Linked DNA regions of Homo sapiens: regions 2 and 3 are each linked to region 1. Evidence: fine-mapped expression QTL. A gene starts in region 1. Each other region holds a variant in brackets. All regions are shown on one strand. Distances are from middle to middle.

Region 1 (6,430 bases):
GAGGAGGAGGGGAAGGGAAGACGAGGAGGGGAAGAGCCCCAGCCAGTGCTCACCATTGTCGTTGTCTCTATGCAAGTGCTGGATCATGAAGGGGATGGGATCTTCGGGCTGGTGGATCAGGAGTTGCTCCAGCATGTTCTGTGGGTGCAGGGCAGACACCCAGGTGGTTAATACCTGCAAGGGCACCTGGTCACCACAGATACCAGCTATGGGGCCTGCTCTCTCCACTGCACCCCACCAAACATGCCTTCAACCTGGGACCCAGCCACCGCCCCAGCTGGCATCTGCTTGGGTCCCCATGAGCAGAGGCATGAGGGGGGCCACGTGGTGCTGCTGCGGAGGCACCTATGGGGAGGCAGAAGTGGAGGAGTCTCGCCCCTGATTCAGAGCAGGCAGTCCAGGGCTCTCTCCCCTGGGGCCCTTTGAGCTTCCCAGACCAGCCTTCTCCAAGTTCTCAAGCATCACCATTCCCCTCAGAGCCTTAGCAGATGCTGTTCCCTCAGCTTGGAAGCTTCTGCCTTGTCCTCATCCTGGCTAACTTCTGCTCAGTCTCAGATCTCAATGGGAACATACCTTCCTGAGTATGTGCACTACGTAAATATGTCAGATGCTCCTGCACCTGCCTGCGGGCATCGCCCTGTTCCACGCCTCACCCTGTCCCTACTCACCAGGCCACCATCCCCCCGGCAGGCCATGGGTTCTGTGGGCCTCCTTGTCTGCCTAGAGCCCTTGGCACCCCAATACCTGGCAGTCATAGCAGATGCCCAGCGCAGATGTTTGCTGGGGAACATGACCGTCACCACTAACTGTGTCTCTCCAGAATGGAACAGAATGTTACCAGCCAGATTTCTAAATAGTCCTGGGATATTCTGGCCATTTCATCCAATCAGGCAAGCATATCAAGAGAAAGCAGCTTCTGGGGTTGCAGAACCCTAGGCAGAGAAATGAGGAGGAGCTCATAGCAGCTGTGCTGCTGCAATAAGGGGTATCCTTGAGCCCCAGGGACAAGGAGGGAGGGGCTGTAGCCCTCTTGGAGTGAAGGGAGTGTGGGGCAGGGAAAGAGCACCGAGCCATGAGAAGTCTTGGTTCCAGCCCCACTGTATCTCATCAGCAAGTCCCTTCCCTTCTCTGGGCCTCAGCTTCTCTGCCTGTTCAGTAGCACAGCTGGAGTGAATTCATGTTTGTATGTCACTGGTGCGATGATGGAATGAGATGATTTTAGATGGTTCACACATAAATATTTTACATTTCATGTTTAAATCATTGTGTATTTAACGTGTATTAGAAATATAAGTACATCAAATCAATAATTTCAAGGATATCACTTAGGATGAGGCAAAAGCGGCTATTTAATTTTTTAAAAGGTGAGTTGATTTAAACAAGTGATTAGTTTAAATGGAGGTGCAGTAGCGGTTATGCAAATCTGTACATGTGATACAACTGCACAGAACTGTATGCACAACAAAAACATCAATGCAGGTAAAAATGGAGGAAATCCAAACAAGGCCTACAGTTCAGGTAATCCTATTGTACCAATGCCAGTTTCCTGGTTTTGACAATGTGCTACAGTTATGTTAGATGTTATCACGGGGGCAATGTGGGAGGGGAGACCAGAAATCCATACTATTTTTTAACTTCCTGTGAATCTAACATTATTTTAAAATCAAAAGTATAAAAAATGGAAATGGTCAAAAACATGGAGGGAATCCACAGATGACTAAGGACTGGAAATACTGGACTGAAAGCTTTCTTGTTGGGAGGCCGAGGCAGAAGGACTGTTTGAGCCCAGGAGTTCAAGACCAGTCCGGGCAACATAGCAAGACCTCGTCTGTACTAAAATTAAAAAAAAAACATTAGCCAGGTATGGTGGCCTGCACCTGTAGTCTCGGCTACTCTGGAGGGACTAAGGCAGAAGGATTGCTTGAGCCCAGGAGTTCAAGGCTGCAGTAAGCCATGATTGTATCACTGCACTCCAGCCTGGGCAGCAGTGCAAGACCCTGTTTCAAAATCAATAAAAGCTTTCCTGGGCAATTCCTCCAACAATCAATGTGGAAAACACACCAGGTTCTCTAGAGCAGACAACAGGGCTCCAGATGATCCCCCATCCTGCCCTGACCTGCTGACTTCTAACCCAGCTAGCTATTTGATTTGTGATTGGCCACTCAAGCAGTTTTAGGAATCTCTTGCTCTCCCTCTATCAGTTAACACTTTCCGAGGGAAATGTGTTTGATGGAGGTGCAGACACGGGTTTCTTCGTCTGGGCTCAGCTGTCTAGTGTGCAGGGCAGAACCTCAAATGACCACAGACACCACTATGCCCTCCATGCCATGCCCCTGGGGATGGGGTGTACCCTGGGAAGCAGACAAATGATCTGAAAACTGAGCTCCAGCTTCCCCTTGCCTCTCAGAACCTTTGAGTGGCTGAGAGTTCTTCCCCTCCAGCTCCTGAAAGCCTTGACCTCCACCACGTGCAAAAGGGAAAACTGGGGCCCTGGCGGGGACGGGGCCTCGCCCAAAGTCACACGGTGAGCTGGGGGCCCAGTCAGGCCTGGAGCCAGAATGAGAGCTTCGGAGCTGCCGGGGACGTCTGGCCCTGAGGAGGAGGGACCAAGGTGGGAGATGCTGCTGTCCCAGAGGCGGCCCTCTCTGAGGATGGAGATGCCAGCTTGAACTCGGACAATGCCCACCTCAGAAACCTGGGCCGAGAGGCTCCCCACAAATTCGACAGATGGTAATTGTCAGCGCCGGGAGAGCCCCTGGGAGACCACCTCTTGCAACCTGGCATTTCACAGGTGGGGAAACCGAGAAAAGGAAAGGACTGGTTCCAGACCATAAGGCCCGCTGGCGGCACAGCCAGGACCAAATCCCGGCTCGAGTGGCCCCCTTCCTCCCCCTGGGTCCGCCTGAGGCAAACCCGGGCAGGACCAGGAGCGTCCCCAGCTCGAGGGCCCCCTCGGGGTCACGGCGACACACGAATCGTACATCCCGAGTTGGGCTGCTTCGTGGGCGCGCGACTCGGCCCCAGCTGCGGGTCCCGGCCGCGCACCCGACGTCGCAGTGGAGGCTCCCGAGCCGCCGCCAGCGTCGCGACGGGCAGGGGTGTCCGGTCACCTGCATCAACTCGAAGATGTGGTTCTCCTCCCCGTACTGGGGCATCTCGGGGGGGATACGGTGCGGGGCGATAGTGGCGTCCATGTAGCCGTCTCGGCTCGCCGCTCCCTAGTAACCGCGTCGCTAGGGCCGCCGCGCCGACTGCGTCATCAGCACGCGCCGCGGCCCCGCCCTGCAGGCTCCGCGCCGGGCCCAGATACCCGATCCTCGGTCGCGCGGGTCGCCCCCGCCCCGACCTCCCCGGCTGACGCGCTCTGCGGCTCGGGCAAGTTCTTTCCCCAACCCCGGCCTCGCTTTTCCCATTTGCGCATCTTAGCGGGGGACACCCTCAGGTGGCTTCCAGCTGGGCCTCCTCGTATCTGAGACCCCCGACGAAACCCAGAAGGGGCAAGTCGGCCCTCCGAGGGGACGGGAGGCAGAACCTGCTTCTGGTTCTGTCAGTGCTCCCCGGCCCGGCTCCCTGTGCCTCAGTTTACCCATCTTTAAAACAGACGCGGGAATAAATGTGGGGGAGGGTGTTTGAAGGGGGAGGGGCGTCCATGAGATGGGCCGGAGGTTCGAGGATCGGGTGGAAATCCTCAGCCCAACTCCTAGAGTCGAGCCCCGGTAGACCCCTCCCAGCTCCCCGGCTCTGGCCAAGCCGCCAAGTGACCCGATTGCTATGGCACCGGCGGTAACAATCACGCCCGCGGCCCCGCCCCTTCTCGCCCGACGTCCCCACCCACCCTCGCCTCCCAAGTCCTGGAACGGGCCTCCCCACCCTCCGGGGCACCGACACTCACGGAGTCACTCCAACTTCTCTGGGTGCTCCGTGGAGCGAAGAGCGCTCTAGGACAAGCAAGGGTAAACAGGGATGAGTGTGGGTGGGCCCACTCGGACCCCACCCCGGCCTCTGGGTCAGAAACTGGAAGCTGGGGTGGAGGATGGAAAGATGGAGGGGTCCGGAGGATGGAGGGGCCTGCACAGCTGTCTCGGGGTGGGGGCGAGGGGAAGGTTCGCGCTGGAGACGGAGCTTTTTAAGTCGTATGAATTCCCAGTGGTACGGGGCAGCTTGATATTTTATTAGTCGCAACACTGAATTGGGATCTCTAGCTCTTGTCTGTTGCCGTTAATCGTAGGAGCTGTAAGAGTTTGTTGAACTCTTTGTGCTCTCGGCAAAATTCTGTTGTCTCTGTACCTTATGGAGAGGGAAAATGGCACAGTCAATGCAGACAGCCCCAGCTTCAAGTTCTGGCTCCGCTTCTTACTGTGTGAGCTTGGCAAACTCTCTGCTTGCTCCGTGCCTCACTTTCCTGCCCTGTGAAGAGGGAACTGCTGAAGGATTTCAGGAGCTAATGTATTGGAGAGTAATTGGCATGCAGTAAGCACACAATATATGGGGCTACTATTAGTAGTAGTATCTCATTTAATCGTTCCAACAATCCTGTGAAATAGGCACCTTCATTCCCATTTTACAGATGAGAAGTTGGAGGATTAGAACAATGAGGAGTGGTTGGCTGGGTAACTTTGGGTGAGTCACTTCCCCTTTCTGGGCTTCTTTTCTCATCAGTTGTTGATCATACAGCCTTAGAACCAGAAGGCCTCTTGAAGAAGAGGCTAATCCAAACTCTCTCATTTGACAGATGGATAAACTGAGGCCCAGAAAAGGGGGAAATCTTGGCTAGGGCCACTGGTTAGATTGGGCAGAGCCAGGGCATGAACTCTGCATCCAGGCTCCAGCTAAAGCCCTTTTCTACCAGCCATCAGCCCAGAGACATGCCCTCCCAACGTAAAAGCCAGCACTGTTGCCTCTTCCCCTCCAAACCGCTTCCTCAAAGTGTGTACACCTTGGTAGGCTTGTCAAACCCAACTGTAAAGATAGCTGGGGAAGAAAAGGAAGCTGCCTCCCCCTGAGCAAAGAACACAACAGCCATGCCTGCCATTTGCACTGGAGAGGTTTGTTTTGCTTCCTGGACATTTCTGAAATGACTTGCCTTTCTCCTCATTTATTTTAAGCCCTAGGCGCTTTTCCTACCATGATTCAATCTTCTTTAGCAGCCTGGAAAAATACAAATCAATTAAAGCCTAAAACCTATGGGTAATCATTTTTTTCCTCCCTCCTCCCCCAGATCGAGAAGTGCCCGTCCCCTGTGCCCTTCATCCACACTAATTTGGCTGCAGTGGCTCTCGTTCAAGGGACGATCACTTCGGATAGCTTATTACAGCTCCTCTCATGACATTCCTGGCGTGCATGTCACAAGTTGCTAGGATCAAGAACAGAGTCAGTTCCTCTCAACCACTACCAACCACAGCTCCCACCATGATGAGGGAAAAGCCAGGCCGAAAGGGCACACGCCCTTTCTCCCTGGAACTCCACCTATGTGCTCTCTCTCACTTTTCTGGAGCTTCACCTTTGAGTCATTTGTAAGCCCTGGGCCAACATTAGGGCAAGGCAAGTGATGCACCCTCAGCACAAAACTTAAGGGAGTGCCGGCAATTCAATCATTGAGGTGGATGTTTTTCACGTTTTAATGCAATATATTTTAAAAATCAAAAATAATGCTGCCTAAAATCCATTTAGAATAACATGTCAAAAATTTAAGTAAAGGTAGGCTCAGTGTTACTGATTTCTCCTTTTGCCTCAGGCCTCAGTATGGCAAGGTGCAGCTATCTTTTTTTTTTTTTTTTTTGAGATGGAGTCTTGCTCTGTCGCCCAGGCTGGAGTGCAGTGGCGCCATCTCGGCTCACTGCAAGCTCCGCCTCCCAGGTTCACGCCATTCTCCTGCCTCAGCCTCCCGAGTAGCTGGGACTACAGGCGCCCGCCACCGTGCCCGGCTAACTTTTTTTGTATTTTTATTACAGACAGGGTTTCACCGTGTTGGCCAGGATGGTCTCAATCTCCTGACTTCGTGATCCACCCACCTCGGCCTCCCAAAGTGCTGGGATTACAGGCGTGAGCTACCGCGCCCAGCCAGCAATCTTTTCTTTACAAATTCTGATGTTGCCAGCTCATGCTTCTAATCCCAGCACATTGGGAGGCTGAGGTGGGAGGATCGCTGGAGCCCAGGAGTTCGAGACCAGCCTGAGCAACATAGGGAGACCCCATCTCTACAAAAAAAAAGAAAAAAAAAAAAGAAAAAAAAGAAGAAAAAAAAAAAAAGAAAAAAGGTAGTCAGGCATGGTGGCACATACCTGAGGTCCCAGCTACTCAAGAGGCTGAGGCGGGAGGATCACTTGAGCCCAGGAGGTCAAGATTGCAGTGAGTCGTGATCACAGCACCACACTCCAGCCTGGGTGAAAGAGCAAGACCCATTCTTTAAAAAACGTTTTTGGGGCTGGGT
Region 2 (6,430 bases), 90 kb before region 1:
TCAAAGACATAATCCATTCAAATGAAAGATAAAATCAAAATTAATAAATGAAGAGGTTGAAATATATAAACAACTGGTGTTGAAATCTTAATCCAGTTTTAAAGAGAATAAAAACTTTGTAAGTATAGTAATTATAGTTAAAAACAGAATATAATTGTTATATTTCTAGAAAGAAAAGCTTAATCAATACTGATTAAAAACAATAATCTGTGTATAATAGACTGGCACAGAAAAATTTCAGGATATGTCTGTCCCTGGCTCCCCCAAAATGGAGAATGGCTGGAGAAGGGGGATGAGGAGGCAGTACATGTGGGATACTCTTTTTTTTTTTTTTTTTTTAGATGGAGTCTTGCTCTGTCGCCCAGGCTGGAATGCAGTGGCGTGCTCTCGGCTCACTGCAACCTCTGCCTCCCGGGTTCAAGCAGTTCCCTGCCTCAGCCTCCTGAGTAGCTGGGACTACAGGCGCCCACCACCATGCCCGGCTAATTTTTGTATTTTTAGTAGAGACAGGGTTCCACCATATTGTCCAGGCAGGTCTTGAACTCTGGACCTCGTGATCCACCTGCCTCGGCCTCCCAAAGTGCTGGGATTACAGGCGTGAGCCACCACGCCCAACCGACATCTTTCATATGAAGGGGTCAAGATATTCTGCTGCATTTCAAAATCAACAAACTGAGAAATAAGGTTTAATCAAGTCGTGTTGAAGAGACTATTAGAACTATAAACAGATTATCTTCTAAATTAACGGAAGTGGGGCAGGTAAGAAGCTAACAATAACAAGAACAAAACTCAAAACACATCCCATAAAGAAAAGATGGAAAACAAAGGAAACCATAATGAAGCACAAAATAAAGTAAGAAAAGCAAAAATAAGTGGGATAGACTCAACTATTCAAGGAAAAAGTCATTTCAGATTGAAGAAAAAATATCAAACCCAATTTCATTCTGTCCACAGTGAAGACAACATCTACGGGCTCCACCCATGCATCCAGAGCTTCCATATAGCTTTTTAGTTGTGTCATCAACAAAAAATAAGAGAAGCAAAATAGTTGAAAGTAAAACTTAGGAACATGCAAATGTAACAAAGAAATCAGAGTTTGAATTCCAGATAAAAATGGCTTCTTGAAACCCGCACCAGATTTTGTTTCTTCCCCAAATCCCACAGAAAAACGATAGGAAAGGCACTTTGAAAACCTAACCTACAAGGACAGAAAGAACAGGGAAGAAGAAGGCAATCAGACAAAGGTTTCGATGCTGGAAAGCAGACTTGAACCAGAGGCAACGAGCTGAGGCGGCCTCAGAAAGCCAAATCCTAAATCAGTAGTAGGAAAGCTGAGAATCAACCTCATCTTCCCCAGAAAATCCTCAAAAGGCTCAGGCACAGGTGCCACCTGGGAACTGGTGGCTAAAATAAGGGGGCTTGGTTGAAATTTGTTTCAGAAGAGAGTGAGTCCTAGATCCCTTCCTCACTCCACCCAGCTGAGTGAATGTCTCTCCTCCACTTGGGAAGAAATTAAACATTTATTCTCTAGAGAGGATAAAATACAGGCTCTTTGGGCTGAAGAATGCCAAGCACAGTTGAGAGCCTGAGTCTATGGTAAACACAGGGGAATTAAGTAAAAGTATGCAAACTGCATGCAGTATGTGAGACCCCTCCCCTGCCCTTCCCAGTGTCCTGCTTCTCCCCTGGACCCCCAGAGAGGGGGTCCTGGCAGCAAGGCCTTTACCCTCCAGCAGGAGACTGCATGAGTCCTCTCTGGGGAATCGGAGCAGCCCAGAGGAAAAGATCTAAAGATGTTGACACTTGGTGGGAGGGTTCTGCACAAATGGCCCAATTTTATCACCCCAATGATACCACCCTACAGTGAAGACTAAACCTGTGGGCTCTTTCCATGCACTCAGAGCTTCCAAATCGCTTTTTAGTCTCCCATTCTTAGACGTGAGCAAACAACCAAGGGTAATTCAACATCTAAGGGTAAAAAAAGACTCTGCTGAGAAAGAATAAGACCAAGACAAACAAAAATTCAATAGAAACTGGTTATGCAGAAAGGAAAAGGAAAAAAGCCTATCTCCCCATCCTCCTAACAAAATCAAATATGTCATTAACATTTTCAAGAGATAAAAAAACCATGAAATAAGATCAAGAAACTATAAAAGGAATATTCAGAAAACAAAAAGCTCTTGAATATTACAGAAATAAACAAACCCAAGAGCAGAAATTAGAATTCAATAAAAATGTTGGAAGAGAAAGTTGAGGAAATCTCCCAGAAAGTAGAGCCAAACAAAACAAAAAGCAGCAACTGACCACACACACACATACACACAAAATACAAGGGAAAAAAGATATTTTTACAACATTTAGAAGCCCAGTCCTGAAGATCCAATACCCAAATAACAGCAGTTTCAGAGAGAATAGAAAAAAGGGGAAAAAATCATTAACAAAATAATTCAAGAAAATGTCCCAGGACTGAAGGACACAGGTTTCAAGATTAATTTCTGGTACGGTGGAGTAAATCTGACCTATACCAAGGATATAATGAAATTTCACTGTGAAATTTCAGAACCCTGGAGACAAAAGGAAGAGCCTACAAACTTCCACAGAAAGAAAAAAGTCACGTATGAAGGCTCAGGATCAGATTGGCATTGGACTTCTTAGCAACACTGGAAATTCAAAATTCCACGGGAAAATCATTTCCAGCCTATAGTTTCTCACCCAGCCAATCTATCCAACAAGTATGAAGATAGAATAGACACTTTCAGATAGAATAGTAGGGCCCCCAAAATTTACCTCCCATACACTGTTTCTCAGGAAGTTACTGATAGATGTGTTCAACCAAAACAAGGTAGTAAACCAAGAAAAAGGAAGCCATGTGATATAGAAATAAAATATCGAATATGGGAGAGGGGTAAAGAGAATCTTCAGTGTAGTAGTGAAAGGCAATCCCAAAATGATTGTTGTGTACAGGCATAAAGGGTGACTTCTTCAATTTAGAACACATGTGTTTCCGGTGTAACAGTCCACTGCTTTTAAATCATCTTTTTAACTTGGGAAGCAACTAGAGGTTATGCTTTGTCAAATCAAGGGGGTATATAAAAGGAAGATGTGTAACTCAGGAAGTAGAGACTCCAACTCAAAAGAAAGCCAAGGGGAATTCCTCTGATTATAGTAAAGAAAAGCCCCTGATGATCAACTATGCAGTAAGCCTAGAAAAAAACCAGTCCAAACAGAAGAGGAATGGGAGTGACCAAAAAAAAAACAACAACCTGAAACTGACAGATTACACAATATGATGGACTTTGTGGGAAATTGTTCTGAAAGGCTATTATGAGATGTGGAAATAATTAACTAA[T/C]AGGTACAAAGAAAACTAGACAAGTGAAAAAGCAAGATGATTATTAACTTCAGGAAAATCAAAAAGAAAGGAAAGGAAAAACAAAAAAAAGCTAACGCCTTCCAGCTGAGTTAGATTCCTTAAAGCAGGTTTCCTGGAAAAACCACAAAATTGTATGCTTGTATCTCATTAGCCAGAACTTAGTGTTGTGGCTCCATATAGCTGTAAAGAAGACTGGAAAATGGGATCTTTTATTTTCAGACACCAAAGTACTCCTCTGAAAATTGATCTTTTGTTATTGAGGAGGAAAGTTAGAATAAATGTTGGGGTAGATAATTAGCTGTCTGTCACTGATGGTCACTTTCATCAAGAATACATTTCACAATGAACACATAGCTGACAGAAACCTTTATGCACTAAATAACATAGCACCAAAACACATAAAGCCAAAACTGTAGGAAACACAATAAAAATTAGTGGCACAAGATATTCAAATTATGTTAATATATTTAAAGACAGGGGAAAGGGGTGATTTTCTAAGAAGAGACCAATTGCACAAGAAAAGAGAGAAATTCGAATTGACCAAACACCCTGAACAAAATCAATCAAATTGTTAACAAGCTACCTCTGCCCCAAAGTGCCAGATCCAAAAAAACAGTTACTGCCTGAGTTTTAAAAACTCTCTCAGATATGGAGAAAGAAAGAAAATCTACGAAATTTTCACATCACTGATACTAAAGCCTAACAAAGCACAAGAATGTGGAAAAATTCTAATCCATATTATAGATGCATATTAATGCAAAAAAAAATGTAGCCAATACAATCCAACAGCATGTTAATTTCCTTGTGCTGCCAATATCATATTATGACAAACTTAGCTGCTTAAAGATACTCAAATTTGGACTGGGTGCGGTGGCTCACACCTGTAATCCCAGCACTTTGGGAGGCCGAGGTGGGTGGATCACAAAGTCAGGAGATCGAGACCATCCTGGCTAACACGGTGAAACCCCGTCTCTACTAAAAATACAAAAAATTAGCCAGGCGTGGTGGCAGGCACCTGTAGTCCCAGCTACTTGGGAGGCTGAGGCAGGAGAATGGCGTGAACCCGGGAGGCAGAGCTTACAGTGAGCCAAGATCGCGCCATGCACTCCAGCCTGGGAGACAGAGCGAGACTCTGTCTCAAAAAAAAAGATAATCAAATTTGGCTAGGTGCAGTAGCTCATGCCTGTAATCCAAGCACTTTGGGAGGCTGAGATGGGTGGATCACCTGAGGTCAGGAGTTCGAGACCAGCCTGGCCGACATGGTAAAACCCGTCTCTAATAAAAATACAAAAATTAGCCATACATGGTGGCACACACTTGTAATCCCAGCTACTCAGGAGGAGGAGGCAGGAGAATCACTTGAACTTGGGAGGCAGAGGTTGCAGTGAACAGAGATCATGCCACTGCACTCCAGCCTGGGCGACAGAGTGATACTCATCTCACAAAAAAAAAAAAAAAAAAAAAAAAAGAAAGAAAGAAAAGAAAAAAAGATACTCAAATTTATTATCTCCCAGTTTCTGTAGGTCAGAAATCTGGTATGGGTCTAACTGGGCTTAGGTCAAGGTATCAGCCAGAGCTGTAGTTCTCACCTGGGGCTCACTGTTGGTTGAATTCATTTCTTCTCACATTTTCCACGGCCCCCATCTTTGAGCCACCAATGCTGTGTCATGCTTAGAAATCTCTCTGACTTCCTCTTCTGCCCTCAGTCAGGAGGAAACTCTGCTTTTAAGGGTTTGTGTGATTATTCTGGGCCCACCCAGATAGTCCAGGATGACCTTTCTATTTTAAGGTGAACTGATTAGTAATCTTAAGTATATCTGCAAAGTCCCTTTTGTCATGTAATGTAATATTCAGACGCATGACAGCAGGGGGCAAAGGTCCTAAGGGTCAAAATTCTATCTGCCACAAGCAGTAGAATAATATTCCATGAACGAACAATATGCCATGACCAAACCAGTTACTATAGGAACAAAAGACTGGCTTACTAATATTAACATAATTTATAATACCAATGTGTCAAAAAGGAAAAACAATTTTAAAGGATGCTGAAAAGCTCTTGATAAACATTAACTAGAGATTTTAAATCACGGAGCTATACTTCTTTTTTTTTTTTTGAGACGGAGTCTCACTCTGTCGCTCAGGCTGGAGCGCAGTGGCGTGATCTCAGCTCACTGCAAACTCCGCCTCCTGGGTTCACACCATTCTCCTGCCTCAGACTCCCAAGTAGCTGGGACTACAGGCGGCCGCCACCACGTCCAGCTAATTTTTTGTATTTTTTAGTAGAGACGGGTTTCACCATGTTAGCCAGGATGGTCTCGATCTCCTGACCTCATGATCCACCCACCTCGGCCTCCCAAAGTGCTGGGATTACAGGCGTGAGCCACTGTGCCCGGCCAACTTCTTTAACTTCATACAAATTGTATGCACTTCAAACCAAAAGCCAGTAGCACCTTAATGTCAGCAGTACCAGGACAGCCCTTATGGTCAGGAAAAACCACCGTGTCGATCATGACACCCTGTTCTGAAAGTACCGCCCAACAAGAGTAAAATGAAAAGTATAAATATTGAAAAGGAAGAGGCAAAAGGATGAGTATTTGTAGATGACATGGTCATCTACCTGTAAAACCCAAGAGAATCAACTGAAAAACTATCCAAAACAGTAAGAGGGTTTGAGAAGGTGGCTGGGGTATAAAATAAGTAAGCCAAAATCAATGTCTTTTGTATACTCTTGAAAAACCCCCTTAGAAAATATGGAATGAAAATATCTTATTATAATATCAGTAAGAAGAACAAGAGATAATATACCTAGAAATAAAATAAAAAATGCGAGACCCAAGGAAGTGTTGATATTTTCACTAGAAGCAAAGACAGAATATATCCATGTCAAACTGTAACGGATTGTATTAGTCCGTTTCACACTGCTATAAACAACTACTTGAGACTGGGTAATTTATAAAGGAAAGAGGTTTAATTGATTCACAGTTCCACATGGCTGGGGAGGCCTCAGGAAACTTACAGTCATGGCAAAAGGTAAAGGGGAAGCAAGGCACATCTTACATG
Region 3 (6,430 bases), 60 kb before region 1:
TCTGGCCGGGGGCTGCTCATCTCTGGGCGATGTGCCTCAAGTGCGTCCACATTTGCACCCTTGTTACACAGCAGAGGGGGTGCAGTGTGTTGCTTCCACAGCCCTTCCAGCTGGCAGGGCATCTCCATGGGATGGTGGGGCCACACAATACGATAGATTCATATTCCAAGTGGGCTGACTCATCATTAAAGGGCACCATGTGGCTGTAATCCCAGCTTTTTGGCTGAGGCGGGCAGATCACTTAAGATCAGGAGTTCAAGACCAGCCTGGCCAACATGGTGAAAATCCGTTTCTACTAAAAATACAAAAATTAGCCAGGTGGGTGGCATATACCTGTAATCCCAGCTACTGGGGAGGCTGAGGCAGGAGAATCACTTGAACCTGGGAGGTGGAGGTTGCAGCGAGCCAAGATCGCGTCACTGCGCTCCAGTCTGGGCAACAGAGCAAGACTCCGTTTCAAAAAAAAAAAGAAAAAGAAAAAGAAAAAAAGGTACCACGCTGCAGTCACCTGGCCAGTGGCGGCTGCCCCGCTCTGGACACCTGCTCGCCCTGGGCAGGAACCTGCCTCTGGCCCCACTGTGTCTCGAGCCCTGAGCTAGGGCCGGCACAAAGGAGGTGCTGGGCAACAAGCATGAGTGAATAAACACAGGCTACCTCCTCCTTGGCTGTGAAAGTCCTTCCTAGCCAAAGCCAGAAGATTTAAACTATATTTTCATGAATTGTTCACTGCACGCTTTTGGCTTTCTTACCTTTAGGGCTAAGAAGTTTTCTGCCTATACTAAGGAGACCAAAAAACATCCTAAAGTTAACTGGATAGCATGAATGTTTAACAAAATTACCATCACCAGGGATTCATTCCTCAATAATGATATGCTTAATTCACTATGTAAATGACAGCAGTTGTCATTTAATTTAATCCAATGTGCTTGGCAGCCTCACCAGCAAAGGACATATAAGTGAGAATAAAGGCTGCTGGGAGCTAGGCGCAGTGGCTCATGCCTGTAATCCCAGGACTTTGGGAGGCCAAGGCGGGAGGATCATTTGAGGTCAGGAGCTTGAAACCAGCCTGGCCAATATGGTGAAACTCCGTCTCTACTAAAAATACAAAAATTAGCCCAGTGTGGTGGTGGAAGCCTGTAATCCCAGCTACTTGGGAGGCTGAGGCAGGAGAATTGCTTGAGCCCAGGAGGCGGAGGTTGTAGTGAGCAGAGATTGGCACCACTACACTCCAGCCTGGGTGACAGAGGGAGACTTTGTCTCAAAAAAAAAAAAAGAAAAAGAAAGAAAAGAAAAAAAAAGCTGCTGAGAACTGAGACAATTCTGTGTGCCAAGCACTGTGCTAAGTGTGCTTTGTTTTATTTGGTCCTCACAATAACCTGCTGTTTCTTAGGTAAAGACACTGAGGCTCAAAGAGATGAAATAACCTGCTTTAGGTCACAGAGCCATTAAGGGGCAGAGCTGGGGTCCAAACCCAGGTCTGCGTGACATCAAACCCATGCTTAGCTTCCAGTTCTGGCCATGAAGGAGTAACAGGTATCATATTTAACTTCTCTTATAGAAAGCTGTGAAACTGAACAAAATCTATGAAGCAATTCTTTAGAGTCATTGGACAACAGAGAGACAGGTCTGTAATCCTTGAGAGGCAGGAAACATACAAAACGAGCCCCATAGTCATCCTGGATTTCTACCTATGGGCACTTCTCAAATCATGGCACAGGAGAAGTGGAGCCCAAACAGATCAGCAGTCTCACTGGGTGGAAGCAACAAAGACTGGAGCTCTGAGACGGCCAGAATTTGTAGAACAGGGTAAGGGAGAGGAGGCAGCTGTGCACAGAAGGAGTTCCAGAAATCTCATAGGGGTTCACTGAGCCTTTGGCCAATATGAAGCTGCACATGTGCAGGGTGAGACTCCAGAGGCCTGGTAGAGAAAAGCTACTGGGAAGCTGTGAACTGAATGGAAATTCACACAGGGCTGGGAGATGCTGGCATTCTGACAACCAAAGTGACAGACCCTGCTGAACACCCCGGACATTCAGCTGAGATTCCAGAAAGGGCAGACCTTAGCTGCAGGGATACTCTAGCCCTAGAGTAAGAACACTCTACTCCCACTTAACAAAGCCTGAAAATAAGCTTCAGTAGGATGGAGTTAATCCTCCAAACTCAATACTCTTAAAGCAGAATGGTGACACAATCCAGACCTTCAAAAATGTGAGAAACACAATGTCTAGCATTTAATCAAAAGCTCCTTGACATGCAAAAAAGCAGGAAAATGTGACTCCTATGAGGAGAGAAAACAGGCCAGAGAATCAGATCGGGGATGACACACATGTCAGAATCAGCACACCAGGACTTTAAAACAGCTATTATGAGTACACTTAAAACCTTAAAGGAAAAGATAGTTAAAATGAGTGAACAGATGGAGAATCTCAGCAGAGAAAGGAAAACTGTGAAAAAGAACCAGATGGAAATTCTGGACCTGGAAAATACAGTATCTTAAATGAAACAAATCACTAGGTGTGCTGCAATCAGTGAATTTAAAGACAGGATAAAAGAGGCAATAGGAAGTAGCCAAACTGCAGCAAAGAGGGGGATGGGAAAGGACCGGAAGAAAAGAACCAAATCTAAGAGACCTAGAGGACAATACCAGACAGTCTAACATATGTGGAACTGTAGTTCCAGAAAGAAGAGAGGCAGGCAGAAAAAAGATTTCAGAAGATAATGACAGGAGAACTTCAAAATTTGATTAAAAATTTCAGCCCACACACCCAAGAATCTCTGAGATCCAAGCAGAACAAACACAAAGTAAGTCACACTTCGATACATCGTAGTCAAATTGCTGAAAGCTAAAGAGAAAATATTAACAGCAGCTGAGGGCAGGGGGAGTGCTTCACATGCAGGGCAACAATGGTAAAAATAACCTCTGAGATTTCATCAGAAGAAGTGCAAGCCGGAAGACAATAGAATGACATCTTTAAAGTGTTAAGAGAAAGAAACTGTCAACATAGATTTCTATATGCAGCCAAAACATCCTTCAAAAATGAAGATGAAATCATATCATTTTCAGGCTATGAAAGCTGAGAAAATTTGTCACCAGCACACTTTCACTACAAGAGCTGTTAAAGGAAGTTCTTCAGGCTGAGAGGAAATGATACCAGATGGAAACCTGGATCTAAACCAAGGAGTGAAGAGTACTGATAGGTGGGTACATATAAAAGTCTCTCCCCCCTTATATCTTCACTTCTTTAAAAGATGAATGACTATTTAAAACAAAAATAATTACAATATATTGTAGGGTTTATAACATACGCAGAAGTAAAATGTATGTCAACTGTAAAGAAGTAAGGTAAATGGAAAAATCTACTGCTGCGAGGCTCTGATATCATACATGGTGAGGTGTAACATTCACTCAAAATAGGCTGGGACAAGCAAAAGATGCATATTTAATCCCTAGAGCAACCACTAACAAAATAAAGCAAAGAGATATGGCTAAAAAGGAAATAGAAGAAAGAAAATGGATTACTAAAAAATACTTGGTTAATCCAAAAGGTGGCAGGAAAGGAGGAACAAAGAACAGATGACACAAGTAGAAAACAAAACAAAACAAAAAAACAGGCCAGGCTTGAGGGCTCATGCCTGTAACTTCAGTGGGAGGCCGAGG[C/T]GGGAGGTTCACTTGAGCCCAGGAGTTTGAGGGTGCAACGAGCTATGATTGCACCACTGTACTCCAGCCAGGGCAACAGAGCAAGACCCCGTCTCTTAAAAAAAAAAAAGTGAGACCCAACTATATGCTGTTTACAAGACACATAGTTAGACTATAAGACACAGATAGTTTAAAAGAAAAAGAATAGAAGGTATATCATACAGACACAAATCATAAGAAAGTTAGAGAAACTTCATTAACATCAGACAAAGTGGACTTCAAGAAAATGAGTATTGCTAGAGAGGAAAAGCAACATTTCCTAGCAATAAAAGGGTCATTTCACCAATAACATATAACTATCCTTACTGTATACAGTCAGCCCTCCATATCCATAGTTTCTACACTCATGGATTCAACCAACCACAGATTGAAAATATCTGGGGTAAAAATTACGTCTGCACTGAACATGTAGTCTTTTTTCCTTGTCAGTATTCCCTAAACAATACAGTATAACAACTGTTGCATAGCATTTACATTATATTAGGTATTATAAGTAATCTAGAGATGATTTAAAGTGTATAGGAGAATGTATGTAGGTTATATGCAAATACTACGCCATTTTGTATCAGAGACTGGAACATCCTCGGATTTCAGTATCCAAGGGAGGTCCTAGAACCAATCCCCCATGGATACTGAGGTGTGACAGTATGCACTTAATGACAAATTACATGAAGCAAAAACTTGCAGAGAATAGACAAATCCACAATTCAGAGTTGGGAGATTTTTTAAATGTTGGGCTGGATGATTGTAAAAAATTAAAAATAAAAGAGTTGGGAGAGTTTAACACACCTCTCTCAATAACTGACATAATAAGTAGAGTGAGAATCATTAAGGACATAGACGAATTTCAAAATTTGATTAAAAATTTCAAACATCTTATCCTAATCGATATTATAGAACACTATAACCAACAATGCAGAATACCTATTTTTTTAAGTACACTTGGAATTCACCAGTATAGACCATATATGCAAATTTCAAAGGATCAAAATCACATAGGGTATGTTCTTTTACCACAATAGAATTAAATTAGAAATCAAGACTATAAAGCAATCAGGAAAATCCCCAAATATGTGGGAATTAAGCAAGGTGTATTCTAAATAGTACACAAGTCAAAAAAGAAACCAGAGGCTGAGGTGGGAGGATTGCTTCAGGCCAAGAATTTGAGACCAGACTGGGCAACATAGAGAGATTCCCGTCTTTACAAAAAAAAATTAGCTGAGCATGGTGGCATACACCTGTAGTCCCAGCTACTTGGGAGGCTGAGGCGGGAGGATCACTTGAGGAGTTGGAGGCTGCAGTGAGCCATGACTGCACCACTGCATTCCAGCCTGGGTGACAGAGTAAGACCCGAAAAAAAAAAAAAAAAAAAGACAAAGGGAAGGAAGGAAGGAAGGAAGGAAAGAATTCATGCTCACTGTAAAAAAAAAAAAAAATCTGAATTGTATAATCCACAGCTCTGCCGAGATAAGCAGTTTGGTGTATGGATATTTCTTCATGCTTTTTCTGAGCATAAACTAACATGCTTTTTTGAACAAAAATGAGGTCACCCCCTGGATACTGCTGAGCAAATTGTTTTCTGCCCCTCCCTTATTTAGCCATGTATCACTGACATCAAATCACTTTACAGGTTTATTTTTAACAGCTGCCTCGCAATCCATTACATGGGTTTATCACAACTTATTTCACAAACCTGCTTATTAACAGAGTTAGAGGTTGCCTCTGTTTCTCATTATGCTTCTGCCACATCTCTCCTTACATATCTGAGTGTTGGAGCAGAATAAACTCCTAGGAGTTAAATCCCAGGGTCACAGGGTTTGCGCAGTTAGTGCTTTAACCAACAGTGGCTTTCGCCTTTCAGAAAGTCGTGTCCGTATATACTCCCATCATCCTAAGTGAGGTCTTCTGATGAACTTTGTGGGAGTGAGTGTGGGGGCTGTCTGTTTTTTTGTTGGTTTGGAGATATTTTCCTTTGGCTGAGAGATTCACAGATGTGAAGATTAGAACCAGGCGAGCGGATGGCCGCAGCGGAGCAGACAGCACCTGGAGCTCTGGGTTCAGACACGCATTTGCAGAGAGATCTCAAGGCTACCTGCCTTAGGTCTCTTAAATGGGTTTACTTAAATCTCATGACATCTTGTATTTATCAAGAACACCTTTGAGAAATGTGAACTTTCTGAGATAGTCTCCAAATGCTTAATTATCTAAAAGAGCCCCATCATGGCTCTTAGGTAACAAGCAAAAACCATGATGAGCTTTTCTATTTTCATTTTTGGAAAAATCTAGGCAGGTAATTTCATCTCTTCATGGCTGGTGTGCTGAACGCAATTTGAATTAAAAAAAAAAAACCTTTTATTGAATGAGAGTGTCTGCATCATAAAACAGAGCACCGAGACAATTATTTCCATAAAGCCCTGCACTGCATTAAAGTATTGCTGCCGTGTTTTCAGACTCTCCCTCCACCGCGAGTGCCCCTCCACGCTCACTCTGTCCCTTCCCGTAACGATGTGGGCACATGCTTACGTAAGCAAGTGATGCCGCCACAGGTAGACTGCTGGTCATCGGAACAAAGAAGCCATCCCTAACACTGCTGGAAATTTCATCTTATAATTCTCTTAAGAGGAACAATCAAAAGAAGAAGGAATTATTGAAATAATTTATTTTTAAAAACGGACTCAGGAACATTTTTTATTCTAAATGTCCTGATTAATTTTCCATAGTAATCAAATTTGC

Alleles and levels. Positions count from the first base shown, and alleles are read on the strand shown. Sizes are in standard deviations (SD) of each study's normalised expression. Not every link is listed here.
With allele C in place of T in region 2, the expression in monocytes after LPS of the gene that starts at base 3,223 in region 1 is lower (moderate effect, 0.65 SD a copy in Quach 2016).

Evidence for each region. PIP is the estimated chance that this variant, and not a neighbour inherited with it, causes the effect.
Region 2: its variant is fine-mapped to the expression of AK8 in monocytes after LPS (Quach 2016, PIP 0.95).
Region 3: its variant is fine-mapped to the expression of AK8 in anterior cingulate cortex (GTEx, PIP above 0.99). The same link has a PIP of 0.9 or more in amygdala, spinal cord and substantia nigra.

The regions. Positions count from the first base shown.
Region 1 is chr9:132,875,062-132,881,491 of GRCh38, forward strand. AK8 (adenylate kinase 8) reads right to left here and starts at 3,223. Exons shown (of 13, transcript NM_152572.3): 1 at 3,111-3,223; 2 at 54-138. The coding sequence starts at 3,194. It overlaps SPACA9 (sperm acrosome associated 9), which reads left to right and starts at 3,837. Exons shown (of 4, transcript NM_001316897.2): 1 at 3,837-3,953.
Region 2 is chr9:132,784,785-132,791,214 of GRCh38, forward strand. The region is part of intron 11 of AK8 (adenylate kinase 8); the gene reads right to left. Among named protein-coding and RNA genes, the nearest start is that of AK8, 90 kb to the right of the region's middle. The variant T/C (reference allele first, on the strand shown) is at 3,350.
Region 3 is chr9:132,815,095-132,821,524 of GRCh38, forward strand. The region is part of intron 9 of AK8 (adenylate kinase 8); the gene reads right to left. Among named protein-coding and RNA genes, the nearest start is that of AK8, 60 kb to the right of the region's middle. The variant C/T (reference allele first, on the strand shown) is at 3,659.